Linked DNA regions of Homo sapiens. The protein of the gene in region 1 purifies or fractionates together with the protein of each later gene. This does not show direct contact. Each region holds a gene or a part of one and is shown in the gene's direction. Other genes may lie near its edges. The genes, in order: DEFA6, MIPEP, POTEE and VWA1.

Region 1 (7,119 bases):
GGACTGAAACAGCACCATCAGGTCTTCACTCATACCTTGGCAATTTGGGCCTGGCTCAGAGGAGAGGTTCTGCTGGGATCTGAGGAGCTCAGGGCTGAGACACTCGCGCACAGGTGGCAGGCAGTGCTGGCTCAGCTGGGAGCTCTCACAGGGCTGAGGGATGGGACCTTGTGATGCGCTGGGGCCAGATCATGCCGGCTCATGAGAAAGGTGGTTTGTGTGACATTTTTTAAACGGTCCAGAGCTGGGAGGATTCTAACCACAGAAATTTACAAACACTGTAAATCAGAGTTTTGGTTTTTCCCAGAAAGCTGGCTGTTCTGTGTTCTCTAGCTCACCCTCGCAGGTGCCCTCAGTTCATCTTCCTGTGCGAGGCTGAGGCTTCCTCAAAACACGGTGTCTGGGCCCCCAAGTGACCAGCCCTCTTAGTCCGTTTGAGCCACTATTTAAAAAAAAATACCATAAACTGAGTTGCTTATGAACAACAGATATATTTTTCAGTGTTCTAGAGGTTGAGAAGTCCAAATCAAGGTGGCAGCAGATTTGGTGTCTGCTGAGAACCAGCTTTTTCGTTCATAGATGGCACCTCCTCACTGTGTCCTCACCTGATGGAAGGAATGAAGGAGCTCCTTGGGATCTCTTCTATAAGGACACTAATCCTATTCATGAGGTGCCCTCCGGACCTACTCACCTCCCCAGAGGCACCACCTGTTAATGCTATCACCTGGTGGTTTAATATTTCAATATATGAATTTCAGAGGGACAAAAATATTCCAACTGCAGCGCCATCCAAGACGGTGAAAGTGAAAAATACCAGTGTCTTAGCACCTGGGCCCAGCAAACGGCATGGTACTAAGTCAGGTGCATTCTATTGGTGAAGATGTCACCCGACCTAGATCCAACAGGAAAGAAGTAAACCTCCCTTTCTGTGGGAGAAGAGTCCAAGAATTGGGACCACATTTTAAAACAGCCCAAGAGAGTTATTCTTTCATAGTCATTTGTAAAAATTGCTGCAGGCAACAACACCAGACACATAGACAGCATGTGAGAGGCGGCTGGGAAAGGCAGACAAAGGGCAGGGGACTTGGAGCTCCTGCCTGTCCCAGCTGGATCTGCAGGCCCGGGAGTTGCTGTGTGGCACAGGCAGCACCAGGACCCTCCCTGCAGGGAGGTGGACAAAAGGCTGAGGGGAGGGACAGGGCGGTGCACTCTCAGGGGCTGGGAGATGGACAGTTCTCAGAGCTCACCCCCACGCAGCCCCCGCTCTACCCCACGCTAACACACACACTCTGTTCCAAAACTGCCCTTCCACACTGGGTCAAAACCATGTCCCAGGGCCCTGCCCAAGGTCCACACTCACTGTGTCTGCTGGGGTCACCAGACAGCCTCAGAGAGTGTGGGAATATCCTTGCTGCTGCTGAAGGCCTTTCTCCTCTCACACCCACACCTGCACCCCCACCTGTAGCTTCCCCAGGATATTTACCCCAGCTTGAGGGTGTCAAGGCTCTTGTTGAGTGTCTGAAAGCTGAACTGCATGTGTATGAAGGAACAGTTTCAGTTGTGTCTACACTCAGAGTTGACACTGGTGGCAAGTCCAGGACACTGTGCTGGGGGCAGGGTGGGTGGGGGTGGAAGTGAAAGTGTTGCAAAGACTTTTACATGTAGCACCATTTTTTGCTTAAACCACTGATTTCTGCCAAGGTTCTGGTGCAGCCCAGAAAGAAAGGTGAAAGGGACCACGAGATACAGACTCACTCTGTTCTAATTGGGGTTTGGGAGCCACCTGGGGGAGACAGAGGCAAGGCCCAGGTGAGACCTCAGCACAGACTGAGAACCTGACCTGCCCTGGCTGTCGAGTCCCCACCACAGACTGGGAAGGAGGCAGGGACAGGAGCATTGCCACCCAGGAGAAAGAGCAGAGGCCCCCAGACTCAGGTCCTCAGCCCCGCAGCCAGCACAAGGGGGAACGACATCATGACACTAGGTTAGAGACGGGGCAGGCCAGCCTTCCAGGGCCAGCAGCTACCGCTGACACGGAACCAGCAGCAGTGTATTCTGTGCCCCCTGAACTAATGTTGTAATATGTACACTTTGGGGTGCAGAAGAAAGCAATGTGTTTGCTGAACAGCACTTTACAGCGCTCCCATTTGAAGTCCCTCTTGGGTCAACTCCTGTTTAAGGGCAGGAGGGCCACCTGCTGTCCTTAAGGTGCTACTGCAGTGCTGCGCGCCCAGTTCTCTGTAAGGGCAGGTTCTTCTTTACTGGAAGATAGTGTGGGCTCTGCTAGGTCAGCGTCTGATGTGTGAGGACATCTCAGGGTGGAGGTATGCTGGAGCCACTGAGGACAACAGAGACAGCCCTTGGCCTAAGTCAACTTCATCTCGGTGGCATCTCCAAGATGCTCGGTTCTTATTAGGGCTTCCATGTGGGAGTGGGGTGGGGTTAACTCAAGAAAGGCAGTTAACAGAGATGAGGTCCTCGTGACTGCGGGTCACGGTAGGGAGGTTACTTCTCTTGCAGGAGCCTGATGGCTAAACAAGGGGGAGATATACCTGCCTCGATTTTGTGCATGATCATTGAAAGCTGGATCCTAGAGTAAATGGGCTCTTCAAAATAGAGCTTGTGCTTCAGTATTTGCATGTATGTGACTCTAGGGGCAGGAAGGTAAGTAGAGAGAGGGAAAGGAACTACGTGAAGTTCCCTTGTCCCTGACACCCTTTGATGTTCTACTGTTCTAGAAGTTCTGTTTACTTCCAGGCGTTCCGTCTGTTGGCGTGGTGATTGTGGTGACTTTACAAGCTGCGATATGGATCCTGATAAGCCTTCCTGCACCCCATCTGTCTAAACATTTACCAATGCCCATGGGGATTGGTCTGCATTATCTTCTATTTCAATTAAAATAGGCTGGGAACACTTCTTAGTTTCCAAAGATAGAGCATACAATTCCAAAATGCTCCTTTAAGTCAAGACAAATTAGATCACTTATTTACAGAAGTATCTTGTCCTGTTAGCTAGATCAGGGTATCTGAGTAACAGCTCCAGGGTAGGATTTCCAGGTGATAGAGTAATTATTGCCTGTCCCATGAACTACTGGGGAAAGAGGCATAGACAGCTATAAGTCACAATGGACAATTACAGTTTGGGTTGGAGAGGGAAAGTTTAATTCGAAATTTAGATGTTAGTTAAATGGTCATCTCCTGCTGGGTAAATGAAGGCAAAATTCAAATAAATACAGAACAAATGCATTTTTAAATGCCCATAGATTCCCTAACAAAACTGAAACAAAAATCAAGAAAACAATTCCATGTACAATAGCATCAAAAAATAAAACACCTAGGAAGAAACAAGGAGGTGAAGGATCTACACACTGAAAATGAAAAAAAAAAAAATAGTGAAAGAAATTAAAGAATGTAAAAATAAATGGAAAGATATCCTGGGCTGAAAATTGGAAGAATTAAGATTGTTAAAATGTCTATCCCAAACAAAACAATATACCGATTCAGCACAATTCCTATCAAAATCCCCATGGCATTCTTTACAGAAATAAAAAAAAAAATCCTAAAATTTGTATGAAATGGTGAAAGAACCCAAATAGACAAAACAATTCTGAGAAAAAAAAACAAAGTTGAAGACATCACAATTCCTGGTTTTAAATTATATTACAAAGCTACGGTAATCAAAACAATATGGTATTGGCATAAAACCAGACACATACCAGTGAAATAAAATTGAGAGTCCAGAAACACATCGAAACACATATGGTCAAGTAACTTTTGACAATGGCATGAAGAAGACACAATAGGGACAGGAGAGTCTCTTCAATAAATGGTGGTGGGAATACTATTTCCATATGCAAAACAATAAAACTGGACCCTTCTCTTTTGGCATATACAAAACTTAACTCAAAATGGATAAAATACCTGAATAGAAGACCAGAAACAAGAGACTATGAAAATAATGGTAGAGTTCTATATGTTTTGAGCTACAAAGTATTCAAATTACAGCATTAGGGAGAAAAAACAAAGCACAAACCAATGTTTAATTTTTAAGTGGAGATTTCCTGGAGCAGAGCTGCAGGGCTGGGGCAAGGATGGAGGCTCATTACTCCTTTTACCCTTTGAATGGTCCTTGTGGGCAATTCAACATTTTCTAAAATTAAAAATAAAATAAAATTTCAGAGGGGGATTGTGGGCATGTCAATTGTTTCGATGTTTCTCAAAGTGGAGAGAAATACCTAGTACATATTTTAGTTGATACATTCAGATCACATGGGTTTCTTGAAATAAATCTTTTGGCTTTAGTTTTACTAACTCTTTACCTAGTATCCCACTGAGTTCTTTTCCCTTATAGGCTGATAAGGTCATTATCTTCTCCACACTGTGCCCCACAAGAGCCTATTCACCCCATAATCTCAAAGCCTCCTTCATGAGGGCAGAAATGCCCCCTGAATCCTGCAATGAATTAACTCTCTACTCTAGCGGGATCCAGCTCTGGCCTCAAGGTCTAGACCTCCAGAGAGTGGCCAGCCCCACCTTCAGAAAATAAGAGGCATTTGATTCCTGAAATTATTCATTGAAAGCACTGTTCTTTTCTTTTTTGAATATTAACAAGTAAATATTCCAGCAGATGGAAAACAGGACAATGTAACACTGTTCTTATCATCACTATCAGCTGGGACCAGAACAGACACTCAATAAACAGCCTCACACTACAATGAAGCTTGGAGAACAAAGGAGCATCAAAGGGACATGGAGGGCAAGGGTAGCTCTTCTGCTCCCCAATCACATGCACTCCCCGTCTCACCGCAACATCTGTCCCTGAGCCTTCTCCCAGCAGACCTATAAATCCAGGCTGGCTCCTCACTCCCCACACATCTGCTCCTGCTCTCTCTCCTCCAGCGACCCTAGCCATGAGAACCCTCACCATCCTCACTGCTGTTCTCCTCGTGGCCCTCCAGGCCAAGGCTGAGCCACTCCAAGCTGAGGATGATCCACTGCAGGCAAAAGCTTATGAGGCTGATGCCCAGGAGCAGCGTGGGGCAAATGACCAGGACTTTGCCGTCTCCTTTGCAGAGGATGCAAGCTCAAGTCTTAGAGCTTTGGGTAAGAGACACCAGCATTGCAGAGCTAGGAGTGTAGAGAGGAAAACCAAGCACTTCTAGAATTAGATCCAACAGCTGGCTCTTTCTCTTAGGTGATCACCTCCCCAGGCCTCAATTACTTTATGTTTGTACTGAAAAGGAAGAATCAGTGATATTCAAGGCATGACTTTTCTCTAAAGATTTTTTAATTCTATGATAAGTCTATGAAATTTTCTAATTTTTTGCCATGTAGAAATGTATTGAGGAGTCTCTACTTCAAGGAAGAGAGCCTAATTTTAAAGGAATGTTTTGTTTTGCTTTGTTTTGTTTTGTTTTGTTTGATGGAGTCTCGCTCTGTCACCCAGGCTGGAGTGCAGTGGCACTATCTCAGATCACTGCAACCTCTGCCTCCTGGGTTCACGCAATTCTCTCCCTCAGCCTCCCAAGTCACTAGGATTACAGGCACCAGACACCAAGCCTGGCTAAATTTTGTATTTTTTTTTTTTTCAGTAGAGACGGGGTTTCACCATCTTGGCCAGGCTAGTCTTGAACTCCTGACCTTGTGATAAACCCACCTTGGCCTCCCAAAGTGCTGGGATTACAGGCGTAAGCCACCACATCCAGCTGCTAAAGGAATGTTTTTTAATCTGACTTTTATAGGAACCGTTGCAAACTGGAGACAGTCATATGGGTGCATTCAGATGTGTGTGTGACAGGGAAGGAGCAGATAAGTACAGCATATCAGAATGGCTCTCTAATCCTGTGTGTGACCAACACTGCTCTGCGTATTTATTCCTATTGATGGTGTGATCATGCTATTGGCTGTAATGCAGCCAGCATTACATGTCAGCAAGCATGCAACTTCCTGAAGATTCTCTTTACTGCCCGCTGCTGACCCTGGTGCTCAATTTCTGATGCTCTCTCTCTCTGTCCCCAGGCTCAACAAGGGCTTTCACTTGCCATTGCAGAAGGTCCTGTTATTCAACAGAATATTCCTATGGGACCTGCACTGTCATGGGTATTAACCACAGATTCTGCTGCCTCTGAGGGATGAGAACAGAGAGAAATATATTCATAATTTACTTTATGACCTAGAAGGAAACTGTCGTGTGTCCTATACATTGCCATCAACTTTGTTTCCTCATCTCAAATAAAGTCCTTTCAGCAAGTTCTTTTGTGTTTGTGCTTTTCTGGTGTTTGATAATTCAGGATTCTTCAGATGCAAAAACAAAAACCCAAGTCGTATCTCAGAACACTAGCTCTTCGAAAGAGTTTTCTATGTAGACCAGAGAAGTGGTAGAGAGGATGTTGAGAGAAGAGAGGATTTGGGTTTTTTGTTTTTTTGTTTTTTGCTTTCTGAGATGGAGTCTCGCTCTGTTGCCCAGGCTGCAGTGCAGTGGCACAATCTTGGCTCACTGAAACCTCTACCTCCTGGGTTCAAGTGATTCTCCTGCCTCAGCCTCCCAAGTAGCTGGGATTACAGGTATCCACCACCACGCCAAGTAATTTTTGTATTTTTAGTAGAGACAGGGTTTCACTATGTTGACCAGGCTGGTCTCGAACTCCTGACCTCAAGTGATCCGCCCACCTCGGCCTCCCAAAGTGCTGGGATTACAGGCATGAGCCACCGCACGTGGCCTTAGGCACTCTGTTTTAATGTTAATGCTGGCCAGCTGTGCCTGAATTCCAATGGGAGGAGGATATCATGAGGTATTCCTGATCCCCACGTCCCATCATGGCCTGAACCAGTGTTTGAGGTTAACACTAGAATGCCTTGGGCTGAGAGGAGGCGTCCATTCAGTTGGCTGGAGGGCTTAGAATTTTAATCTTGGTTTGAATGGGATACAAACATAGGAGGAAGGAACGTGGGGTCCTGGCCCTTCCGACTCTGGCCAGAACCTTGCCAACCACATGTCCACAAGAACACAGGCCCTCTCTCTTTGCCTTGTCCCTTGTCACTATGTCCAGAGACAAGAGGGTGACAACAGTCCTGGGTATAACAACAACCCTGACATTCATCCAGAGGTCTGGCCAGACTC
Region 2 (8,466 bases), on another chromosome or scaffold:
TAAATCTTCCATTCCACTCTCCTCAAGAGTAATGGAAGAGAAACAGAGTGAGGAAACCTCCTCGCACCTCCAACATTCAGACCACGTCCCAAGTCCTTGTCGCAGGAGAGGAACACAATCAATTGTGACAGTCAGTCCCCATTGCACACACTCCCTCTTCGTCCTGTCTTGCTGTGCGCTCTAGGCACGTCCTAGAGATGGGCGCTTGGGAAGTCACTCAGTTCATTTCTTAGGTCACTTATCCCACGCAGCTCAGCACCCCAGATGCCCGCTCATGCCTGCCTCTCTCCACCTGCGCTCGTGTGGAGGACAGAGTGCCCGTCAGGGCGGGGGTCACCCCCAGACTCTCCAACACATGGCTGATGGAGACCAATGGCCAGAAAAATCAGAAATGGAATTTCAACTCATGCCTGTTTTCTGCTTTTCCACCTAGGAGAACCAGGATGTCCTGGCAGCCCGGGGAAGGATGGGACGAGTGGAGAGAAGGGAGAACGAGGTTAGTAGTTCCTATTTATGGTGCTCTAATTCTGAGCTGTCGACTATTTAACAATATTACCATGGACAAGTCCTCCATGCTGATTATAATCTTATAATAAAGGCAACACAGTTCTTACTCTCCAGATGGGGGGATTCTGCAGGGATTGGCAGGCTTTGCAGAGGGCTGGGTAGTAAATATTCTCAACTCCACACAGATCTGTCACCACTACTCAACTTCCCCTTGTAGTGAAAAGAAGCTGTAGATGCTCCATAAATAAGCATGGCTCTGTTCCAGTGACACCATATGTGTGAAGACTGAAATGGGAATTTCCCATGGTTTCCATGTATTGTGGAATATTATTTGTGACCATTTAAACATGCAAACCATGGCCGAGCACCATGCCTCACACCTGTAATCCCAACACTTTGGGAGGCCCAGGTAAGAGAATCGCTTGAACCTAGGAGTTCCAGACCACCCTGGGCAACATAGTAAGACTTTGTCTATACAAATAAAAAAACTAGCCAGGCATGGTGGCACATGCCTGTAGTCCCAGCTACTCAGGAGGCTGAGATGGGAGGATCACTTGAGCCTGGGAGTTTGAGGCTGCCATGAGCCATGATCTCATCACTGCACTCCAGCCTGGGTAACAGAGTGAGTGACCCTGTCACAAACAAAAACCAGAAAAACAAAAAAAATGTCAACCATGTTTGTTTTGCTTGCGGGAGGGAGGCTGAATTTGGCCTGTGGCTGTAGTTTGCTGAACTTTGAACCTTGCAGTGGATGAGCACTGAGGAGTGAGACTGAGTTTTTGACTTGGTGCATCTGGCAGCACTGCATGGAGGAGGTGGCACTAGAACTGGTCCCTGATGGGTTGGGATGTAGTCGTAGTGGCAAACTTGTGTAATCTTCACTTTGTGCTTTTCATGTACTGACTCACCAAATGCAACATCCCCAGACACTAGGTAGTTTTATCACCCCAGTTCCGTAGGTGAGGGAACAGAGGCACGAGGCTCACTAGCTCGTCTGACGTCCTGTGTGCATATGGGGACAGAATGGAAACCTGGCACTTAGCCTCAGAGTCCACACTTGCAACGACGGCTCTTTGGTATGGGTGGGGGTGCAAGGAAGCAGCAAGGTTTCTGTAGATGATGAATTGCCGGTGGGATAGGTGGGTTGGGGCTGGGGTTGGGCAGGAGAGGGCAATGCCTCGATGCAGGCTTTATTTTATGTTCACTCCAGGGAGGAGGTTTTTAGAGGATGTCACGACTAGGGTTGAGTGTCAGTTAATCTGTCTGTCTCTGCTCTGCAGAGTGCTTTTTGTCATGGATTGACATTATTTAATAGCCAGCATGGTAGACTTAGATGGTAGGGTTGTAATTTCTAATGTGAGCCCTGACACTAATTTAGTAGACAGTAGTCAAAAGGTGTGTTGGGATGTGTGTGTGTGTGTCCATGTGCACACACGTGTGTAATTGGAGTAATTGACTTTTATTTATTTTTTTGAGACAGGGTCTCACTCTGTTGCCCAGGCTGGAGTGCAGTGGTTTGATCACGGATCACTGCAGCCTCAGCCTCCTGGGCTCAAGCCATCCTCCCACCTCAGCCTCCTGAATATCTGGGACTACAATTGTGTGCCACCGCACCTGGTTAATTTTTGTACTTTTTGCAGAGATGAGGTTTTGCCATGTTGCCTAGCCTGATCTTGAATTCCTGGACTCAAGTAGTCTGCCTCTCTTGGCCTCCCAAAGTGCTAGGATTACAGGCATAAGCCACTGAGCTGGGCTGGAGTAATTGAATTTTATTTTCTTATTTTTTTATTATTTTTATTTTTTTAGAGTCAGGGAATTGCTATGTTGGCCGGGATGGTCTTGAACTCTTGGCCTCAGGCAGTCCTCCTGCCGCGGTCTCCCAAGGTGCTAGGATTACAGGTGTGAGCCACCGCACCCAGATGGAGTAATTGAATTTTAAACTCTGGGCATATACTGAACCTGTGTACTACTTTGTTTCATTTGTGAGCTCAATTATAGAAAAACCAAAGTTGTTCACAAGGGAATCTTTCACAAACTATCTCTTTATTTGCTCTTTCTCTATTTAGGAGCAGATGGAAAAGTTGAAGCAAAAGGCATCAAAGGTGATCAAGGCTCAAGAGGATCCCCAGGAAAACATGGCCCCAAGGGGCTTGCAGGGCCCATGGGAGAGAAAGGCCTCCGAGGAGAGACTGGGCCTCAGGGGCAGAAGGGGAATAAGGGTGACGTGGGTCCCACTGGTCCTGAGGGGCCAAGGGGCAACATTGGGCCTTTGGGCCCAACTGGTTTACCGGGCCCCATGGGCCCTATTGGAAAGCCTGGTCCCAAGGGAGAAGCTGGACCCACGGGGCCCCAGGGTGAGCCAGGAGTCCGGGGAATAAGAGGCTGGAAAGGAGATCGAGGAGAGAAAGGGAAAATCGGTGAGACTCTAGTCTTGCCAAAAAGTGCTTTCACTGTGGGGCTCACGGTGCTGAGCAAGTTTCCTTCTTCAGATGTGCCCATTAAATTTGATAAGATCCTGTATAATGAATTCAACCATTATGATACAGCAGTGGGGAAATTCACGTGCCACATTGCTGGGGTCTATTACTTCACCTACCACATCACTGTTTTCTCCAGGAATGTTCAGGTGTCTTTGGTCAAAAACGGAGTAAAAATACTGCACACCAGAGATGCTTACGTGAGCTCTGAGGACCAGGCCTCTGGCAGCATTGTCCTGCAGCTGAAGCTCGGGGATGAGATGTGGCTGCAGGTGACAGGAGGAGAGAGGTTCAATGGCTTGTTTGCTGATGAGGACGATGACACAACTTTCACAGGGTTCCTTCTGTTCAGCAGCCAGTGACAGAGGAGAGTTTATAAATCTGCCAGACCATCCATCAGAATCAGCTTGGGATGAACTTATTCAGATGGTTTTACTTTATTAATTCCTCCAATTATTACAATAATCATAAAAAGGTGAAAACGGAAAAGTTATTCCCAAAACTGATTCTATGTAACTTACTATTTTTCCAGGAGTAAATATTTAAAATAGCTGCATGGTTTATTCTAATTTATTTCACATTTCTTATTCCTATTATCTGAAGAATCCTTTGTCTGTGCATTTCTTGTGGGAAGAGTGTTTTGATATCATTTTAGTGCTCTGAGGAGTCATATGAAGATGTATCCCTCATCTGTGTTTCTGAGGACATTAAGGGGAAATTAGAGGGAAATGTTTATTCCATTTAGTACTAGTAACAGCTTTAAGCTGGTGATGCTGTCACACTCCAGAAAGCTGTAGACACTGCTCATTTTGTCTTTTTTTAAAAAATGTATTTTTAAGTTCTGGAATACATATGCAGAACGTGCAGGTTTGTTACATAAAAATGTGCTGTGGTGGTTTGCTGCATCTGTCAACCCATCACCTATGCAGGTATTAAGCCCTGCATGCATTAGCTATTTGTCCTGGTGCTTTCCCTCCCATTTTGCTCATTTTCTAACCTAGGTTTTAATCACCATTCTATCCAACAAATCATTGTTTGATCATTATTTGCCAGACATGAATCTCTACTTGTTTTCTAGGATCGCCCTAATAAAGTACACAAACTGGGAGTCTTTAAACAACAGAAACGGACTTTCTCACAGTTCTGTAGGCTGGAAGTTTGAGATCACCGTAGCAGCAGGGCCATCCTCCCTCCAAAGGGGATACAGGAGGATGCAGCCTTGCTGCTTCCAGCTTCTGGCAGCTGGTGGCAGCATCACTCCAGTCCCCGCCTCCATCTTCAGGTGGCTGTCCTCCTCCTGTATCAGCCAAATTTTCCTCTTCTTACAAGAACAGCTTCCCTAATCTAGTATGACCCATCTTAATCATAATTGCAAACTCCATATTTTCAAATAAGGTCACATGTACAGGCACCGAGGGTTAGGACTTCAGCATCTATTTTGGGAGACACAGTTCAACCCAATCTGCCCTCTGGTTCCCAAAATTGATTTCCTTCTCATGTGCAAAATACATTTTCGCACCATGTCAACATTACCAAAAGTCTTAACACTTTCCGCATCAACTCCTCTCACCATCTACATCATTTAAATAAGCTACAGAGGAGACTTACTGTGTGATTCATCGTGTGGCAAAATGTCTCTCCATCTGTGATCCTGTGAAGCGAGACGAGTTAATCCACTTCTAAAAGACCGGGGGTTGGAGGGGGAGACAGGCATAGGGTAGACAATCCATTCCAAAAGAGAGAAAGGGGAAGGAAAAAAGGGTTCACGGGTCCCAGGCAATTCTGAAACCCTGGAGGGAAAATCCCATTAGACTTCTTTCACTATTTCCCATCTAAAATTTTTAACTGAGCTATGCAAGAGTAAAAAGTTACCGGACAGAGACACCAAACAGAGAAGTGCAGGATAAATTTACCAAGAGAGTAGGTTAAAAGGGAAACTTCTCCTTCAGGCCTATGGTGGGCATTTCTTGTTTACTCAAGTACCTGCCGTCTCTCAAAGAATATCTAATGTCCACTGGAATTCGAATATGTCATGATTTTACTCGCGCCCACCCCTAGTCAACTTGGGAGGGAAGCGCAACCCTAGCCTTTTCTTACTCTGGACACAGGGGGCGGTAAACCGGGAGGGCGGCCGAGAAGGCGAGGGGGAGCGACGCTCTTGCTCTCTGGACGACAACGTGCCCACGTCCTGAGGCCGCGCCCAGACCCGGAAGCGGGGCCGTCACGTGGGGCGGCGTGGGCTGCTGCCTTGGAAACGCGGAGCGCGCGCTCCCAGCGAAAGCAGCAGGGCAGGGATCTGCGTTGGAGGAAGGGACTGCTCTGGTGCTAGAATGCTGTGCGTCGGAAGGCTGGGCGGCTTGGGAGCCAGAGCAGCAGCTCTGCCGCCCCGCCGGGCGGGCCGGGGAAGCCTCGAAGCCGGGATCCGGGCCCGAAGGGTCAGCACCAGCTGGTCTCCCGTGGGCGCCGCCTTCAATGTCAAGCCCCAGGGCAGCCGCTTGGACCTGTTCGGCGAGCGCCGGGTGAGCGGCGCAGGAGGAGCTCCCCTCAGTCCCCGAGCTAAGCCGACCCCTGCTCCGCGCGGCCAGCAACAATCAGGGCGAGATTGTTTGGGCCTGGGAGGAGGCGAGCAGCGAACCCACCTTTTACAGTGGCGTCTTGTGTGCGCTCTCGATGAGGGCAAGGTCACCTCTGCTTTGAGGGGCCGGGTTTAGTGGTCTCCTACCCAGAGTGTCGGGTCCGGGAACTGCTTCTGCATGAGCCCCTTGCTCCACGTGAATCTGAATAGTTCGTTCTGGCAGTGGCGGTGAATTCGTCCTGCCAGGACCCGCCCTCTGCATACACTCAGGCGCACCCCTGCTAAAGCCCTTTAGCTCCAGCGCTACAGTCCTGCCTTAAGAGGCCTATCCCTGTGCGTTCACAGGCGGCATCACATGGTCTTTTTGCAAGGACACGGCTGCCTGCAGTCGAGTAATGGTAATTTCATTAATACCTGAAATTCCATCATCTATTAATTAATTTATTTCAAAGCTTTGGGCTTTCTTGTTTTAAAACACAAAACTCTGTTGAGACGAGTCTCACTTCCCATAGTGCCATGGAATTGGTCACTTTGATTTCTTACCCCAGGAAGTCACTAGCCTGCGTTGTCTAGTGAAAGGTGAGAGGAAGGCAAGGTTGGAAAGGACTTACCTGATGCCTGTTCTACTTGGAGTTTGTACATTTTGTCCGTTTTAGGTTAAGGATTACTTTTATTTTTGCCTTTTAAAATTTCGTTATACTGTATTGCCTTATAAAGACAAGTCTAGGGTATTGTTGCACTGAGCTAAAGTGTGTGATTCTTGTTTTATCTCCATTATCAGTTTTGTCTATTTAAAAATTATTTTGTGTGAAATTTGCTACACCACCTTCCTTAAGGGTATGTAGTGTTGGTATTAACATAGTTGGTGTGAAGAGACCTACTTGTAGGCGCTGAGCAGAAAGACGTGAGGGGAAGCCTGATTTTGGGTGGATGAGATATAACTAATTTTAGCTTTTATTTTTCCCTTTTTGTATCATGATATTCGGCACTGATAGCAGATTTTCAAATTTTAGAATTGATTTTTGCCTTGAAAAAAAAAAAGCCTTATTCAGTTTTTTAGCATTATGGTCACTGGTAATCCGATAGTTAGAATTCCCGAGAGCAATATGGGCAGGTTGTACTGGGAAGTGGAAGTAGTCTGTGCTTGAATCAAATTAAATCAGTATAAAGATGACATTTGTTTTTGGTCCTGATTTTCCTTTGTCTCCCACTGACTTTCTTTTATTTTATTTTTTATCTTGTAATATATTTTGAAGAGAGATTACTAGCTTAACTTCATCCATCCCTTCTTGTAGAAACAGTAGGGCTTGTCAGGCCTGAAGGTTTACCTGTTCGTATTTCTGAAAATCTATGCGTTAAGCACCTACAAAGTGAATTAACAAAGCCTAGCATCTGCTCCGGTCACTTGTTTCTTTCATTGAGTTCCCCCATGTGTTAGACATTCTATTGGATAGCTGGTTAAAGAAATGAAGGGCAGGGCTCTTGGGTCTGGAAGCTCACCTTTTCAGGAGAGAAGACTTTCAAACAGATAAATTGTAATAGAGAAGTATGGAAAAGTGTGGGCTTTACAGATGTACAGAGCGGGTTCGAGTTCTGTCTTTCCCAATATTAATTTGTGACCTCAAACAAGTTTTTTCTAACGTCTTAAAGCATGTGGCCTGATCTGTAAAAGAATGATACTCTGTTCTGTAGGATTGTGTGATTTAAATGAGAACCTATGTAAAGTAGCAGGCACACTTCATGGTATGCAGTAGGTGCATATTAAATGCTTTTTCCCCCTGCCTTCCTGAGTGTGCTAACAAGTGTGATTGAATAGGTAACAAGAGAATGGTCATTACCATTAGATCAGTGATTTTTGTTTTTATCAAGATATTGAAATGTCTTTGTAACGTATAAAATTTGCTCCCAGTTTCAGCCTATGATTTTAATATGTTCATTACATTTTTCTAAAATATCTATTGCTTCATAGTCAACTCATCCTCCCTATTTGATAGTTATAGAATAATTGGTACTATGTACTGAGATCTCACCTTGTCAGCTGCTGCTGTTAGTACTTTACATATACTTATTACCTGTATCCATGCTGTAAGGTATGTATCGTCATTCCCATTGTACATGATGAAAAAAATATTTCTCCTAGGAGGAGAAATAACATGACCAGGGTTATAAGCTAATAATAATTATGGCTAACATCTATAAATGCTCTGTGCCAAACACTGCTTTATGTATATATATATATATATTTACATATATGATCTCATTTAATCTTTGCGGCCACTCTTAGGTTCTGTAGAAGTGACAGCTGGATTTTGAACCCATACCATTGTTGTTGTTGTTTTTTCCGGAAAATAATTAAAAATTGAAGAAAAATTATGTTCTGAAAACATTTTTAGTGTAATTTATGTGGAGTGATATGGGGAGTATGATAGTGGTATCTGTGATCACAGGTATAACATGATACACCAATGAAAGTCAAGATCTCCTTTGTGATAAAAGTAATTTTAGTAAATATAAAAAAAGCACAATTTTGAATTTTGGTTATAAATCAGACGTATTCTTTGGTTCTAAGGGTCTTTTTGGAGTTCCTGAGCTGAGTGCCCCAGAAGGATTTCATATTGCACAAGAAAAAGCCTTGAGAAAGACAGAATTGCTTGTGGACCGTGCATGTTCCACCCCACCTGGGCCCCAGACCGTGCTGATCTTCGATGAGCTCTCGGATTCCTTATGCAGAGTGGCCGACTTGGTAAGGTGCTTTACCTCAGACTTGAAGCTACCTCTCTTTCAACTTGTTAAAATTTAAGTGAAATTTATCCTTTGTTGTTTACTATTAATATTAGATTATAAAGTTAAAAATGTCTGAAACTGAGATCCATTGGGTATAATTTTTTATGATGAAATATGTCATTA
Region 3 (7,835 bases), on another chromosome or scaffold:
GCATAATCAGCATGGCAGTTTTAAACACTAAAAACCATGGAGTTATTAAGAATACAGATAGGAATTCTGTTAATTTAGTTTCAGTAGTCCTATGAACTGATGGTTTAGTTAACAATCTGGGAAAATTAAATACAAATAGATTTTAAATAAATAAATGTTGGAAAATTTTTTCAAATGGGCAGTATGAGTTTTAATAGCAATTTTTGTTGCATGTTGGAGGTTGAACTTTTGGTAAAACATGAAACTAAAGAAATATTTTACATGCAGATTCTTGCTTTATACACAATTTGTCTTAGGGTTGAGGATATAGAGACAAAAGATACAGCCCCTGCCCTCAAGAAGCTTTTTGTTTAGATGGGAAAAATATTATCATCCAATAACACCATGCCAAATGCTGGTTTAGAAGCAAAGAGCCTTGGAAGCAGTAAATGTTTAAAGTGAGTTTTTGAGATGATTAGAGTTACTGTGGTGAGGCAGAGAAGGGGTGTTTCCAAGGGAAGGAGCAGCGTGTGGGAAAGCACAGAAGAGTGAGAAGGAAGCGAGTACATTTTATTTACTTTCTATGCGTGTAAGTCCATAAGATCTTACATAAAGTTTCCACTTTGGTTGAGGAATATGTACTTTTTTGAATTACATAGGTTTTTGCTTTATATTGTTTTACAGCATGGCCTCACACCACTGTTACTTGGTGTACATGAGCAAAAACAGCAAGTCGTGAAATTTTTAATCAAGAAAAAAGCGAATTTAAATGCACTGGATAGATATGGAAGGTATAGTTCTTTCTTTTAATCTGTGTGTTCTAGATGGACAGCAGTCACTCAAGTCATAAATATTAAATTAATAAGATTAATGTATACTTACTGGGATGTAGTGATCAGTATCAACACAAATCAGTTAGGTAGAAAAACAATTACTTGGGCTGGGCAACATAAAGAACAGTTTTAGTAGGATTCATCTTCTCTTATTATATTGACTGATGTTATTTGTTATGTGACATTTTTGGTTACATGATCTTATGTTAGCTTAAAGGATTTCATATTAATTTTATGAAGTTTGAACTTTAACTTTTAGTTTACTTTATGACTCAGTATTGAACTTCTTAACCCTTTCTAATAGTTTTTAACCTGTGTCTTACATGCTTTTCCATTAAATCTGCTGTATTAAACATAAATAGGGGTTGAAAATCCTTTTGTCTTTTTAATGACTTTGCTTTAAGTTGCTTTCTTTGAAGAATATTAGTGTTAGCTTATCCCTACATGACAATTAATTGCTGTTCCCACATACTGTGGGTTCAACAGCTTTTTTCCTTTTGTTTTTCCAGTGTGTTTTGATGTTTTTATTTTTAATTGGTATGGAGAGAGGGAGTGAAGATAGTTTTAAGTGGATACACTTTTCCTTTAATGAAGACAAGCCGTACGTGGGTGATAAAGAGAAAAGAGCTAGGCTTTGGATTCACACAAGACTGGGTTTAATTAGTAACTTTCTTACTTGCTAGGTGTGTGACCTTGGGGACGTTATTTACCACCAAATATGTTGTCATATATGAAAAGTAGGAGAATATATCCTTCAAAGTTGGCTGTGCATAAGTAAGAAAGATACATGTGGCATTTAATTCAGTGCCTAGCACATGGTTATTGGCACCATTAACTGAAACTCCTATGACTACTATTCTTACCATTATTATTACTGCTTTGAGCATGCAGAGAGCTCTTATTTCTCTTACCCCCTAGCTGATTTTCTATTACAGCATGTCAGTCTAGGGAAGCTGTGACAAAATCTTCACTTAAATCTTTGTCCACCTCAGATAAGTGGCCCTAACATTGTTTCTTGCCCATCAAAGGACTTTAAATTAGTAGCTTCTGCTATGCAATACCCCACTGAGATAAGAGGGTTTTTTTTGGTCCCTTCCTTTTAACCTTGGTGGCATTTTACAAAGATGAACACTTGAGCACTCAAGATGCTTATGTCTTTTAGTGCATGTAAATGTTTGATTCTGCACAGACAGGCAAGATGTTACATTGGTAAAGTATATCAAATTAGCTTTAAAAATAACTTTATTACAGTTCCTATCTCTGTCATTTTAGGACTGCTCTCATACTTGCTGTATGTTGTGGATCAGCAAGTATAGTCAGCCTTCTACTTGAGCAAAATATTGATGTATCTTCTCAAGATCTATCTGGACAGACGGCCAGAGAGTATGCTGTTTCTAGTCATCATCATGTGTAAGTGTTTACATTAAAAGGCTAGTTAATGCTGAATTGAGGTTTAAAATAATTATAACAGTTGCATCTCACATATCAGGTGAGATGTCATAGTTTGGTTCAGGTAGTTTTCGCGTGGCAGTGAGTTAGTCCCCTGCATCAGCCAGAAATCAGACAAAAAGCAAGACAAGTTAGAAGTACCAATGGGTGCGGGATTCTTTATCTCAGGACTTTTAAGATCTTTATCCTTAGAGATCCCAGCATTGTTCATTTGATCCAAGTGTAACACCTATGCAGGGATAAAAAATAGTGTCACATCTTTAATTTTTCTGATTAGTTATTTGGGTCTTGAAATGTCTAGTTTAGCGGAAAGTCTTGTACTGTCTTCTGGGGACTATGTCCTACATACTCCTTGAATTTTTCAAGAACCGAAGGAGTTCACTAAATCCAAGGAAGACAGTCCCTTTTATCAAGTCAGAAGGAGGAGGAAAAAAGACATTGCAATCATTCTGTTGTTTCCGTTGATTTTGTTGCTGCTTTGTGGCCACTCAAACTGGTCCTGCTGCCTTAAGATGAATCAGTAGATTCAGATCCCTCAAGTCTTCATGGCGATTCATACAGTGACTTTGATGTTTTTTAATTCCCATACCTATGCTTATATGCTCAGCCATTGTTCCCAGAGCACCAGCCCCCTGCTCTGGCCGCTGGGCATCTTGACTTTATCCGCACACAAAGTGACCAAATTGACCCTTCCCCACATATTCAGAACCTAATGTGGAACCCACATCTTAGCCAGGAATTAGCTGAGACCTTCATGGTAAGAGATCCTTTGAGGCTGTTGTTGGTCTTTTCTCTGGCAGATGTTAGGTGGGCTTGTTCTAAAGGGTGAGAGGGGTTCAAATAATGTGGCAGAAAGAGGTCAGTGTTTGTTTCCTCTTTGCTACCAGATCTGTACTGTGAGGCACCTTTATATCCTGTATAGAACCCAGTAGAAAGTCCCATATGAACCTTGCCCTGAGCAGTGGCTCCCAGCTGTGGTTGGCCCCTTGAGTGATCTGATTTACATGATAATGAAAATTGTCGGAGCTACTTCCATCTCTAGCTCAAGATTTTAAGATATTTTCAAACTCTAGCTCACAGGAAGCCATTGAAGAGAATTCTCAGAATCTCAAGTAGGTTAGTTGGACTTCACAGAGCCAAGCCTTGTCCATGACGCATCACTAATCATGTGTAAAAGTAGGGCTTTGTGCTTGCTTCGGCGGCACATATCCTAAAATTGGAACAATACGGGGAAAGTTAGCATGGCTTCTGCATAAGGAGGCAGCACAGATCTTTGAAGCATTCCATATTTTGTGCAGTCACTGGAAGGTCATTTGACTATTTGCTGACTAGCTCTGAGGAAATAGTGTGAATCAAAGCAAAATGGGTGCCACCCAAATATTGAAATTGTGATTTGTGCTGCAAAAATAGTCATGTAAGATGGTCTATGAGATGACTTAGACCTGAATAACATGTTCGGTGCAAAATATATTGTTAGTATGTATGTCGAAAATTACAGAATGTCAGCTTGCTACTTCTCTGTGGAAACTAAAAAAAAATAAAAGTAGACTTTTGGTCTCCCATGTCAGCTGGAATTGAACATCAATATAAAGCATTATCCTAACAGACATCTACTGGCTGAGAGTTTGAGTCTGTAGAGAAGGATCGTTGGTCCAAGTCAGGTCTTAACATCCATTGGTTTTTCTGCCCTTGGTGTGATTGATCAACTCCGTAATAGTGGACAATCACATTATCTACTTTAATGAGATATTTATGAATAAATTTAGTTACAAACTATGACATAGTTGAGATGCCCTGAATTATAAGCCATAAAGAGTAGGACAACTAAGAAGCAAAATTAGGACTTAATAACATTTTCTGAAAACTACAACATTTGTATATTAGAACCTATGAACAAAATATGCATTGGGTTTTATTTGGGATTCCAAGATAATTTTAGTCATAAAGTTTAGGAACAGATTATTCCATTGCTTTACTATTTCTCTGAGCATTTAAAAAATGTTATCTCGTTAAACCTTTATAACAACCTAGTGAAATAAGGCAGCAAAGTCCTCACTTTGTTGAAGAAGACATTGAGCCTAAGAGAAGCAAGTTGTCCAAGAACAAATAGCTGTTCATTATGGAGCTAGGACTTATTTAGAGTTGGGACACTTTCTATTATGTCATGCTAATGCTAGCTAATTTACTGGGTCACAGTGCCCTCGATTTATGACTATTTCACCTTACATTTTTTTCTTCTTTAATTAGAAGCTTAAAGAGAAGTTTGTAGAATGTATTCATAAGTGGATGGGATAATACTATTAAGTTCTGTTATTCTGATATTGTTTGAAATACTCTTAATAATTCTACATTTGGTAAGTTTTTTTTATATCAGTATTAAAATAGTAATTTGGTTTATTACATTTTTATACATAGAATTTGCCAGTTACTTTCTGACTACAAAGAAAAACAGATGCTAAAAATCTCTTCTGAAAACAGCAATCCAGGTAAGACTTGTGATAGTGAATTACTTTAGTCAGTTGTCCCCAACCTTTTTGACACCAGGGACCGGTTTTGTGGAAGACAATTTTTCCATGGGCTGGGGGAGGGTGGGGATGGTTTCAGGATTATTCAATCATGTTACATTTATTGTGCTACTTTATATTATTATCACATTGTAATATATAATGAAATAATTATACAACTTACCATAATGTAGAATCCGTGGAAGCTCTGAACTTATTTTTCTGCAACTGGATGGTCTCATCTGGGGGCAAAGTGAGACAGTGACAGATCATCAGGCATTAGATTCTCATACGAAGCACACAACCTAGATCCCTCAGATGGGCAGTTCACAACAGGGTTCATGCTCCAATGAGTATCTAGTGCTATCACTGATCTGACTGGAGGCAGAGTACAGGCGGTAATATGAGCCATAAGGAGTGGCTGTAAATACAGATGAAGCTTCCCTGGCTTGCCTGCTGCTCACCTCCTCCTGTGTGGTGTGGTTCATAATAGTCCATGGACTGGTATGAGTCTGTGGCCTGGGAGTTGAGGACCCCTGCTTTGCGTGGTCCTACCATAGATAAAAAAGTAAAAGTAAGGAATTTTTGATCACAAAAGAACACTGAAGCACAAGTCATGTTACATATGCTTGTCCCAATAAGGTCTCACTATTACTGACTTCATTCCTCCTCATTTGAAGTTGGAAAGAGATATATTTACTTTGTTGGAACAAGATGTGTTCTTCTACCTGCTGGTTAATTGTCATCATAACAGTAATTTTGTTAGAACAAGATGCTCTGCTACCATTTGCCAAAAGATTGTCATAATAAATATACAAATTGCCCAACTCTAGGCTCAGCAGATTATAATAAAAGCAGAAAAACGTTTCACACTAACAAAAACGCTAGTATGCTACCTGGTTGTGGACACCTAATACATTTATAGTCCAAACTGTATGAGGACACCTTTAATTTAGCCATCTATTTATCAAAGAGCTTTTGTAAGTTAGGTTTTATAAGTTGCAGGAGACAAAGATGGAATAGATGTAGTTTTGATCTTTAAGGTGCTCATAATAGAGCTGTCTCCATTTCATTTCTGTGGTTTTTCAACAGAATTTACAAAGAAAACATTTCTATTTATGTTTTCACTTGTCCACTTAACATATAACTATCAAATGTCTTTTAGATAGTAACCATTTTTCTAATGCTATAGACCACAAACAATTAAAAATACAGACAGGAGCTTTTTGTTATCATTGTCATTTTCATTATTTTACTACTTTATTCAGTGCTTACTGTGTGCTAGATGCCCACTGGAAGCTTATAATTATGATTTATTATATATTGATTATGTGCCAGACATATGTGATGAGGAATGAAAGTTTTGGGAAAAAGTAGGTATGATTTAAGGTAAGCATGCAGAGAGAGAAGAATTTTTCTAGGTAAAGAAGCAGAAGAAGAATGTTTGGCAGAAGGAACATGCAGCGAGGTCGTGTGTTTGCCAGAAGGAACATCTAATGAGATTGCCTGTTTGGGAGGAAGAGCAGCAAGTGCAAAAGACAAGATGCTTGAGTGAACATGGCAGGGTTTCTGAGCAGTTCACTTTTGCTAGTACCAAAAGTGTGTGATACGAGAGGTTGGGAATGAGGTGAATACTTAGCTAAGGCAAGTTTATGATAGACTTTTTAATACTATAGAAATGAGTAGGTCTTATCCTGTGTGCCATGGGAAATTTACCGGGTAGAATGCTTTGGACTGCAAATACTAGATGAACAGTGGCTAAAACAGTAGGAACCAGAGTTGTTTTGGTTGTTCATTGATATCCTAGGATCCCACTTTTCCCTCTTTCAGCTGTGCTGTTGACAGTGTTTTATTCACGTCTCCCTTCATGGTTGGCTAATCCGCAGCAGCTCCAAACATCTTGTTCTCACAACACAACATCGCAAGGGCTGCTTTTCTTCACATGTGTCTTTTAAACAGGGAGAAAACTTAGAAGCATGCAAAGGGCTTCCTGTAACATTTCACTGGCTGGGTCACACCACATGCTCATTCCCAAACCAGGCACTGGGAAGGTAAATACCTGATTAGCTTAGAATAATCATTTCTGTTTCTGAGGCTGAGGAGGGGGATTGGGATAATAAATATCCCAATAGACTTGGATTTCTTCTTCAAGAAAGAATAAGGAATGGCTATTGATAGGGAGCCAACAATGTGTGCTGCAGGGGCTCATTGGAGAAATTTGAGCAGGGGAGTCATAAGATTAAATCTGAGTATTAAGGCATTCTGGTTATGGTGTAAAACGGGTTAGCAAGCTTTTTCTGTAAATGGCCAGTTGGGCAATATTTTAGACTATGTGGTCTCTGTCATATCTACTTAACCCTGCTGTTGTCTGCTGTTGTAGTGTGAAAGCCACCATGATTATATGTAAGCAAACAGGCATGACTGAGCTCCTATAAAACTTTATTTACAAAACCATAATGCAGATTGGATTTGGCCTGTGGCCTATAGTTTGCTGGGATTGATGGAAGGTTCTTTACCCTGTAAAGAAACCAGGAGACAAAGGAAGTTTTCGCAGTAGTCAGTTATAGTTTCCTTGTCATACATCCTTGGAGTAGCATCAATGTATTACAAGGTTTTCACCCGTCCTTAGTGAAATACATAAAGTTAGGAATCTCAACTACTTGTTTTAATATGTTGGCCTTTTTTTTTTGGTGTTATGCTTTTTTCATTTGTTTTGCTTAATTTTTTTCATGTAAGAAATAACATTAATAGTTGGCAGGCTTTTTTTTAAATAAAAGCCATTTTGTAAATGTTTGTGTTCCCAGTGGCAGTGGGAATATAAAGCAGAGGCAGAAGAGCGGTATCGTCAATATGATTTAGTGATAATTGAATGAGAAAGGCTTGGGGGACAGAGAGAAATGTCAGATAATTTCCAGGTTTCCAGGTTGTACAGTAGTATTTAACCTGGATGTGAGGACGAAGGAGGAAATTTTCTGGTGAATACAGAAGAGCAAAGAGCAGCAGGTCAGCAGGAATGACTAATGTTTTTCTATGCACGTTTAATGGAAAATTCATGTAGGATATTTTGAGT
Region 4 (8,216 bases), on another chromosome or scaffold:
GATGTAGGAACGTGCCTGTGGGAGGCCGTAGCCCCGGAGAGCAGAGGCCTGGCCGGCGGAAGAGAAGCAAGGAAGGGGCGATTCAGGAAGGCCAGAGCCCGAGTGCCGGGGCAGGGGCCCCACCCCCTCACCCCCTCACCCCCTCACCCCCTAGGACAGAAGAGGCCCTCCGTTGGAAGGCAGGGGCCCCACCCCCAGGACAGAAGAGGCCCCACGTTGGAAGGCAGGGGCCCCACCCCCTAGGACAGAACGGGCCCTGCGTTGAGGCCCCTGGGTTCTTCCCCCGGGTTCTTGCCTGGCCCCTTCCATGGATCCTAAGCAGCTCCCTTATCGGCCACCATCTGGGAAGCCAGGAGGGGGGCATGAAATGAGGGGGAGGTGGGGCCCCCAGCCAGGGTTCCCCTCCTCAAGGCCCCAGGTATACAGTTGGCCTTTGCCCAGCCCTTCTAGCCCCTGCAGGGGCAGGACCCCACCTGGACCCCATGAATCTCTCCCAACTTTTGCCCAGCATGGTGTCCCTGACCGAAACCCCTCCACTTCAGGACCCTGGGTCCCCAGGCCCGCCCCCACCCTGAGGGTGCCTCTACACCCCTTCCCCCAGAGCCCCTTCCCCCAGCCTGAGGGCCAGGAGCAGCCTCCCTCTTCCTGCAGTCTCTACCACAGCTCTCCACTGGCCCAGGGGCCTGAACTCCTTGGGTGCAGCCGAGCTGCAGGGTGGCTGTGGGGACCTCTGCTTGGCGTTCTTTCCCGGTGGCTGAGGCCCCTGCCCTGCCCAAATGGGAGCCCGGAGTGTGTGTGTGTGGCTGTGTGTGTCCCATCTGCGTCCCTGTCACACGTCATGCCGGAGCAGGGGAGGCAGTAAGGGGCCCCACCCCACTGGATGCAGTGGGCTTCCCACCTTGCCCGGTGTCATTTCCTGATTTGCAAAATATTTCCTGGGAGCAGAGTTGTTGGCAAGCACAGCCTCAGACGGTGTGAGCAGCTGGGGGACCCCTCAGATGTGGCTCCCTCTGTCCCTCCGGCCTGTGCTGGCCTGCCCCTGCCCCCAGGCCTGTAAGCTGGGCAGGCTGTGGGGCAGGAACTCCCCAGGGTGAGTGGGCTGGTCTGAGGGCTAAGGCCCCTGCTCCCAGCTCCGCCCCACCCGCCTCTGGGAGTCCCTTGTGGTGTGTGGACATAGGTCAGTCCCTCCCTGCTGCCTCCTCCCTATCCCAGTCCAGGCCCCTGGGAGTTTTGCGTCTGCCCAGGGCTGTGGCCTGGGCCTGTCTGGACTGTGTCTGGGGAAGGGGCAGCATGTGGTCCTCCTCTCCCTTTCAGGGAAGGATGTCCCAGCAGAGAGGCAAAGTGAGGGGACCCACACAAGGAAGGGGCCCTGCTATTAGGAAACCCTGGGTCATTCAGGCCTGCTGCTCTCCGGCTCCCACCGGGCCGGGCTCTGTCCTCGCTGTGACGAACCTCCTGCCCCTGTCGAGGCCGGCAACACCCTCCACCCGGCCACCCCTCCCGAAGGCCCCCAGCCTGCTCTGCCCCTGCAGTCCTGGCGCAGGCCCCTCCTGCCCACCCCACCCTGCTCTCAGCACTCGCGGTTCCTTCTCTCTGCCTGGAAGGCTCTTCCTCGGGTACCCCTTGCGTGCGAGTCCCCAGTGACCCCCTGTTCTCACAGGGAAAACAAGTAGACCGTATCTTTCCTAGCTGTTCACCGCCCACCCTCCTAGCCTGGCAGTGCTGGCCCGGCGCCTGTGTGTCCCCAGCACTGAGGCTGGGGCGCGGCTGTGCCCAGCACACAGACGAGGGATGGATGGACAGACGCAGATGGTGCAGCTCCCACCCCTACCCAGGCTGCTACCCGCCAGGTGTCTACCCGCCACCCCAGCTGCTGCTGGCACGGGGGACTGAGGGGGGTCAGCTCTGGGGCCAGAGGGGCAGGCCTGGGCTCCTGGGAAGTGAAAAGTGACCCCCGAGGCCCCCAAGACCTGTCCTTGACCCCAGTGAGCAGGTTGAGTCTAGGAGCTGCGTGGGCCCTGCTCTCTTGGTGACCCCTGCTCTGCCCCACTTACTGTTGTGGGGTGGGCTCAGGCACACCCCAGAGCAGTGCCTCAGGCCCGCACCGCTGCCCCTCACCGCCGCTGCCCCTCACCGCCGCTGCCCCTCACCACTGCTGCCCCTCACCGCCCCGTCCATCTGCTCCTGTGTGTGCTTGAGTACGTTTGTGAGATACGTGAAAACAGCAACAAAAGGCGCCGGGTGCGGGCCTGGGCGTCCTGCCCTCAGCTCGGGTCAGGGGTGGGGTCAGAGGCCTCAGGAGTTGCCCTTTTACCCAGGGTCAAACATGACCACAGCCAGCTGGGGACAAAAGGCCCTTCATCTTCTGCAGAAGCCTGGATTGTGCGGAGGAGGGAGCATTCCCAAAGGCGGGTGGGGGCAGGGGCGGTGCCCGGGTGACAGCAGCCTCCCCAGCTTCCTGGAACTCTCTCCACCTGCCTGCAGACAGACCGGCAGGGCAGGCTGGCTCCGGGAAGTGAGGCACAGGGACTCCCACAGCCCAGGCCCAGACCGTGGGGGCGGGGTGGCCGCAGCCAAACCAGGCTGCTCCCCACCCCATGGGGCCCCAGGCCACCAGGATCAGACAGGGGCTGTGCCTGCAGGAGGCAGAGGGCTCGGGGCCAGCACCCACTGTGATCTGGCCTGACCCGTCCTTGCCTCTGCCTCTTACCCCGGGCCCTTCTCCCTGGAGAGTGGAGGGTTCCGGCTGTTATATTTGTGCTTCCTCCGGTGTCTGCCTCAAGTCCGGCCCGGGCCCTGACACTGCACCTCTGGCTGACCCCATGCTCTCTGGGACCCTCTGTCCACGTCCCTCCTCCGGGGTGGAGACAGCGGGGGGAGGGCAGGACACAAGAATGAGTCCTGAAGACTGAGGGGCACGGGGAGAGCTGATGGGGAGGGTCTCCTAGCTGGAGGGACTCCAGGCAGAGCCGGGAGCAAGGCAGGTGGCTGAGCTCGGCCCAGGCTGGGTGGAGGCCAGGCCTCCTGTGCCTTCTCCCGCTGATGGCGAGCTGAAGGGAGGAGGGCGGCCGCTTCCTTGAGGGCCTGAGTCACAGCCAAGAAGACCCGCTCACTTTTTCCAGAAGTGAGGGAAACTTCCCCGTCAGCCCTGCAAGGCTGGCTGAGGTGTGACTGTGGCCCGCCTGCTGGGCGAGGGTGGGGGACAAGCGGGCCACTGGCTGTGAGCCTCCCCAGGGTGGGGGACCCTCGGCCCAGCTCCCTGCCTGACTACCTGGACGTGCCTCCGCAGGGTCTGCAGCCAGCTTCCGGTCAGACCCCAGGTCCTCCAGCGGCTGCGGCCTTCAGCGTCATCTCCACGGCAGCCCCTGTGTACTGGGGGCTGGGGGGCCTGGCGAGGCCCCTCGAAGTGGTACAGCTTGCACTCTGGGGACCCAAAGTCCCCCCACCGGGCCCAGGCGGAAGCACCAGGCATTTCTGGTCCCAGCCGAGGTCTGAGGTCTGTGGAGCGCAGCCAGCACCTCCACTGCCAAGATCCCCGGCAGGGGGGGTGGGGGGCGCCGGCGGGGACACAGCTCTCCCTTGTTCCTGCCGCCAGCTCCTCAGCCTCAGCCTGCTGCTTCCTTTTTTAGGCAAAGTCGAGTGCTGGCCGTCCGCACGGCCCCGCGGTGTCTCACCTGCCTGAAAGGGAGGAAGGAAGCCTGTGGAGCCCCATCCGTTCTCCCGCGGCGCATCCTCCAGGAGAGGGTGGGGAAGGAGGAGACATCCTGGCAGACACCCCCCCACGTCCCCCACCTCCCAGCTCTGAGCTGAGGAGGCCCTGGAAGAGGGCCATGGCTACTCCGAGGGAGGGCCGGGGTAGGGTTCTCCTGTCCAGGGGACACTGCTGGCCCAGCCCCACCCAAGCAGGGGAAATCTGCCCTGGGAGCCACTGTCCCTCAGGACGCCCCCTGCAACCAGCCACCTCTCGTCTGGGCCTCACCAAGACCCCAAGACTCAAGAGCTCCTGTCTCACCAGTGGGACCCTCCAGTCCTGCTGGGGGTGTGTCCTGGGTCCTGGAGTCTGGGCCCCTCACTGGGTAGGGTATATGGGTAACAGGCCCAGTGTGGTCCCACTGGACAGGGCCTCAACCAACCATCTCCCACTCCCATGCCTCTTCCTCCAAGAAGCCCAGGTGGCGTGGGTGCTTCGAGTCTCTCTCGAATTCCTGTCTTCTGTCCCCTTTCAAGCCACTGTGTCCTTGTAAGTTCCACCCCATGGTCCTTCCCATCCCTGCTGGTCAGTCCCTGGGATACATGTCCTGTTACTCCAGACACCTATCCGCCTCCAGCGCGGAGGCCAAGGCGAAACCACGGTCTGGACGTGTTTTTTTGGTGCCACCGCCAGCCCCTGGGGTTCTCTTGGGCCTGGCTGCTGGGACCCCAGCACCCAGAGTCACGGCAGTGGTGGGCATGGGGAGGGCCTAGCCTGGTACCTCCCTGCTCGGCTCCCGCGGCTGGGGGTCGGAGAGGGGTGGAGAGCGTGGGCCGCACAGCCTCGGCCGGGAGAGGGAGACTGGAGTGTGTGTGTGTGCGTGCCTGCGCGTGCGTGCCTCGGTCGTATCTCGGCTGGTGCTGCGTGTCCCTGCGTGTCGGGGTCCGCTCGTGCGCGCCTCTCCGGGGTCTGTGCGCGTGGCCCTCCGCTCGCGCCGGAGGGCGTGGGCGTGGCCTCGGCGTGGGTGTGGCCGCTCGGGGAGGGGCCTCCCGGGGGCGGGGCCGGCCTGGTCCGCGCGGTGACGCGCCCTGCAGCCCCGAGCGAGCGAGCGAGCGAGCGAGTTGCCGAGCGCGCCCCGTCCCTCGCGCGCGATGCTCCCCTGGACGGCGCTCGGCCTGGCCCTGAGCTTGCGGCTGGCGCTGGCGCGGAGCGGCGCGGAGCGCGGTGAGTGCGGCGGGCGGCCGGGCCGGGGCTGGGGCTTCTGGTGACCGCTCTGCGCCGCTGCCCGCGCAAGGCCGTCGCTGTCCCCTGCTCCGGACGGGCGGGCGGGCTGGGAGGCTGCGGGAGCCGGGCGGGGGCGCGGGCGGAGCGTCCTGCTCACCTGAGGCTGGCGGCCCAGGTGCTCCAGGCGACACCGTCCGTGAGCGCCGGGGCATAGGGGCCGTCCCGGCCCGCATCTCTGCGGGATCGCGGGCCTGGACAGGAAGAGGGAGATGTCTGTCAAGGGGGCACCCCTGCCTCAGTTTCCCTACCCTTGCGAGGGCCCTTAGTGGAGGGATGGTAGGGAAGTTGGAGTCGCCCCACCGCACTGGGGAAAACCGCAAGGCCGGGACTAGAATTGAGGCACGCTGGTGCCCTGGCTTGGTGGGGAGGGGCGGTGTAGGGGGCATCAGCCTCCACCCCGGAGGTGCCCGGAGGAAGGGGGAAGCCTGCGAGGGGCTGTTCCGGCTTTCAGGCTGCTGGGGGTTATATCTTGTTGTGTGAGTCCAGGTGGGCTGGAGGATGGAGGCCAGGGGAGGGGCCACCATCTAGTAAGCGGGGTCTGGGCTCCAGCCAGGCCATCCGGCGTGGTCATTGCTGTGCCTCCGACACCTTCCCCTGCTGCTGTGTGCATGCCCAGGGTGCCTCACCTGCAGGCTGAGCTGCGTGGCTGAACTCCAGCCTCAGGCTGCTCCTCTGAAAGCCATGCCTGGAGGGAACAGCCCCACGGCTCAGGCCTGTCCTGGGGGCCTAGGCCAGGACTCTTGGCTCCACCTGCTTGCAGGGTCTGTGAGGAATGGGAAGGTGTGGGGGCTTGGAGCGGAGAGTCGCCCTCTCACAGATGGGATAACACAAGCCCAGAGAGAGCCCTAGATCCCATGGCCAGTGTGCAGTGAAACCCCCAAAAGTACAGGCCTCTTGCTTAGAGTTCCTCTTTCCCCCAACCTAGGACCTTTGGGAGAAGGCAAGCATCCACTTAAGGAAAGCTGGGGCCCTGGGGGACCCTGCCTTGCTGTGGGGCTGTCTGGGGGGCCCACACCTGAGGCTGAGCATTCCTCCTTTCCCCCAGGTCCACCAGCATCAGCCCCCCGAGGGGACCTGATGTTCCTGCTGGACAGCTCAGCCAGCGTCTCTCACTACGAGTTCTCCCGGGTTCGGGAGTTTGTGGGGCAGCTGGTGGCTCCACTGCCCCTGGGCACCGGGGCCCTGCGTGCCAGTCTGGTGCACGTGGGCAGTCGGCCATACACCGAGTTCCCCTTCGGCCAGCACAGCTCGGGTGAGGCTGCCCAGGATGCGGTGCGTGCTTCTGCCCAGCGCATGGGTGACACCCACACTGGCCTGGCGCTGGTCTATGCCAAGGAACAGCTGTTTGCTGAAGCATCAGGTGCCCGGCCAGGGGTGCCCAAAGTGCTGGTGTGGGTGACAGATGGCGGCTCCAGCGACCCTGTGGGCCCCCCCATGCAGGAGCTCAAGGACCTGGGCGTCACCGTGTTCATTGTCAGCACCGGCCGAGGCAACTTCCTGGAGCTGTCAGCCGCTGCCTCAGCCCCTGCCGAGAAGCACCTGCACTTTGTGGACGTGGATGACCTGCACATCATTGTCCAAGAGCTGAGGGGCTCCATTCTCGGTATGCGGGAGGAGGCAGGGCCCAGGGAGCCCTAGCTGGGAGCCGCAGAAGGAGAGGCTGGGTTGAGACTTTGGGAAGATCTCATGTCCCCAGAGCAGCGGCCAGGGCCTCCGGGGCTGTGGTACCCCTAGGGTGCAGGGCTGAGTGATGCAGCTTGTCTATGCACACTCTTCACTGGGCGACCCGTGTACCCTGCTGAGACGGGGGCAGGCTTGAGTAGCCACCTCCAGGTGTAGCTCCCTGCTGATGTGTCCAGCCCAGACCTCGAGGCCCCAGGGAGTGCAGAGCCCGGGTGTAGGCCCAGGAAGAAGCTTCCAAGTCTGGGGACTCTGCAGATGGGCAGCATGTGCTCCTGAGCATGCCCACCATACCTGGAGAGGGGTGAGCCAGAAAGGTCAGGGACTGCCCCCCCAGAGAGCACAGGGCACCTCTCCTGGGTGGGGACAGCCGCCGAGGGCTTTGAACTAGTTCGGACTGCAGGCCCACTGTGAGGGTTTCCTGAGAGGCCGGACCAGGGAAGGCCTGAGGCAGGAGCTGAGCAGCTCCCATTGGCTTTTTTTCTGGACCTCCCTGCCCCAGCCAAGCCCTGAAGGAGCTGGGGCTGGAGATGAGGAACCGGCCACTGGCTCAGCCTGCTGCAGCCACTGAAAAATGCCAACCCTGGGGATCTCACCAAGTCTCCGTCTGTGGGTTAATCATCCACCCAGAGCCGGAAGGGGTTGGACTGTGGGTTGGAGAGGGGTGGACGGCCCTCCCCAAGGTTTCCCCAGGGACGTCTGGCCCCTAGTGGCCCCAGGTCACCCAGTGCAGCTGCGCCTGGAGGGGACCAGGAGGAAAGGCTGCCTTAAGCAGCCAAAGGAAAAGCCTGAGGCTGCAGTGCCGAGGGGCCAGGCAGCAGGGTGGGGGCTCCTGGGAAAGAGGCCGGGTCTGAGGGTGGGGGATGGGAAGAAAGTGGCCCAGGCACCCAGCACTGCAGGAGGAAGATCCTGATAGCTTTAACCCAGCGCAGACATTTATGAGCCTCGCCACAGCAGGGTCACTCAGAGGGCTATGTGGGGCTTGGTGTCACAGGTCCAGGAGTCCCCCTCTGGAGAACCCCACCCCACACTCTCCTGGGGACCCAGGGCAGGCAGCGCCTCCAGAACCCCAGGGCCTGCCCCTGTGGTCTCCCATCTCCTAGCTGCAGCTCAGAGAGCCGGGCTGACCTCAGACCCCGGCCTGGCCACTCAGGCTGGGGCTGGTCCTCTGCTCTCAGGCACCACCGTGGACTCTGCCGTCTTTGAGGACCTTTGTCCTGGTCACTGATCTGGCCACTGCACCTCTCCACAAAGGACTGGGTTTGGGGCTAAGGGAGGCAGGGGCGCTTCTGACAGGGCCTGAGGGGGCTGCACCCTTTCCTCCGTCCTCCCCCAGCCAAGGCACGTTCTGAGAATCCCCAGCATCTGCGGGGCATGGCTCCAGCAGCTCCTTGGCCGCGGGGCCCCGTCTTTCCTAGTGGGGCCTCCAATCTCCAGATCTTCCCCATCAGCCAGGGCCGCCCTCCAGCAGCGGAGGAGGAACTGACCGCTGTTCCCTGACCCCCTGCACCACCCACAGACGCGATGCGGCCGCAGCAGCTCCATGCCACGGAGATCACGT

Evidence for each region.
Region 2: the proteins of DEFA6 (region 1) and MIPEP purify together in Homo sapiens (affinity purification with mass spectrometry; 2 studies listed by BioGRID and IntAct, with this or other methods). This does not show direct contact.
Region 3: the proteins of DEFA6 (region 1) and POTEE purify together in Homo sapiens (affinity purification with mass spectrometry; 2 studies listed by BioGRID and IntAct, with this or other methods). This does not show direct contact.
Region 4: the proteins of DEFA6 (region 1) and VWA1 purify together in Homo sapiens (affinity purification with mass spectrometry; 2 studies listed by BioGRID and IntAct, with this or other methods). This does not show direct contact.

What each region holds. Positions count from the first base shown.
Region 1 is NC_000008.11:6,923,826-6,930,944, reverse strand, and holds DEFA6 (defensin-6 preproprotein), read left to right. Parts: upstream 1-4,868; 5' UTR 4,869-4,909; coding exon 4,910-5,102; intron 5,103-6,017; coding exon 6,018-6,127; 3' UTR 6,128-6,248; downstream 6,249-7,119. UniProt on the Homo sapiens protein: Host-defense peptide that contributes to intestinal innate immunity and mediates homeostasis at mucosal surfaces by forming higher-order oligomers that capture bacteria and prevent microbial invasion of the epithelium.
Region 2 is NC_000013.11:23,886,169-23,894,634, reverse strand, and holds the start of MIPEP (mitochondrial intermediate peptidase), read left to right. Parts: upstream 1-5,234; 5' UTR 5,235-5,314; coding exon 5,315-5,503; exon of another isoform or gene 5,504-5,954; coding exon of another isoform or gene 5,955-5,957; intron 5,958-8,128; coding exon 8,129-8,302; intron 8,303-8,466. Other genes in the region: C1QTNF9B (complement C1q and tumor necrosis factor-related protein 9B precursor), read left to right, coding at 434-496, 2,574-3,346. UniProt on the Homo sapiens protein: Cleaves proteins, imported into the mitochondrion, to their mature size.
Region 3 is NC_000002.12:131,226,160-131,233,994, forward strand, and holds part of POTEE (POTE ankyrin domain family member E), read left to right. Parts: intron 1-663; coding exon 664-770; intron 771-2,084; coding exon 2,085-2,222; intron 2,223-4,676; coding exon 4,677-4,747; intron 4,748-7,835.
Region 4 is NC_000001.11:1,430,907-1,439,122, forward strand, and holds the start of VWA1 (von Willebrand factor A domain-containing protein 1 isoform 1 precursor), read left to right. Parts: upstream 1-4,783; 5' UTR 4,784-4,842; coding exon 4,843-4,915; intron 4,916-6,020; coding exon 6,021-6,578; intron 6,579-8,174; coding exon 8,175-8,216. Other genes in the region: uncharacterized protein LOC107985729, read left to right, coding at 2,327-2,382, 3,057-3,165, 3,290-3,496, 3,630-4,244. UniProt on the Homo sapiens protein: Promotes matrix assembly. Involved in the organization of skeletal muscles and in the formation of neuromuscular junctions.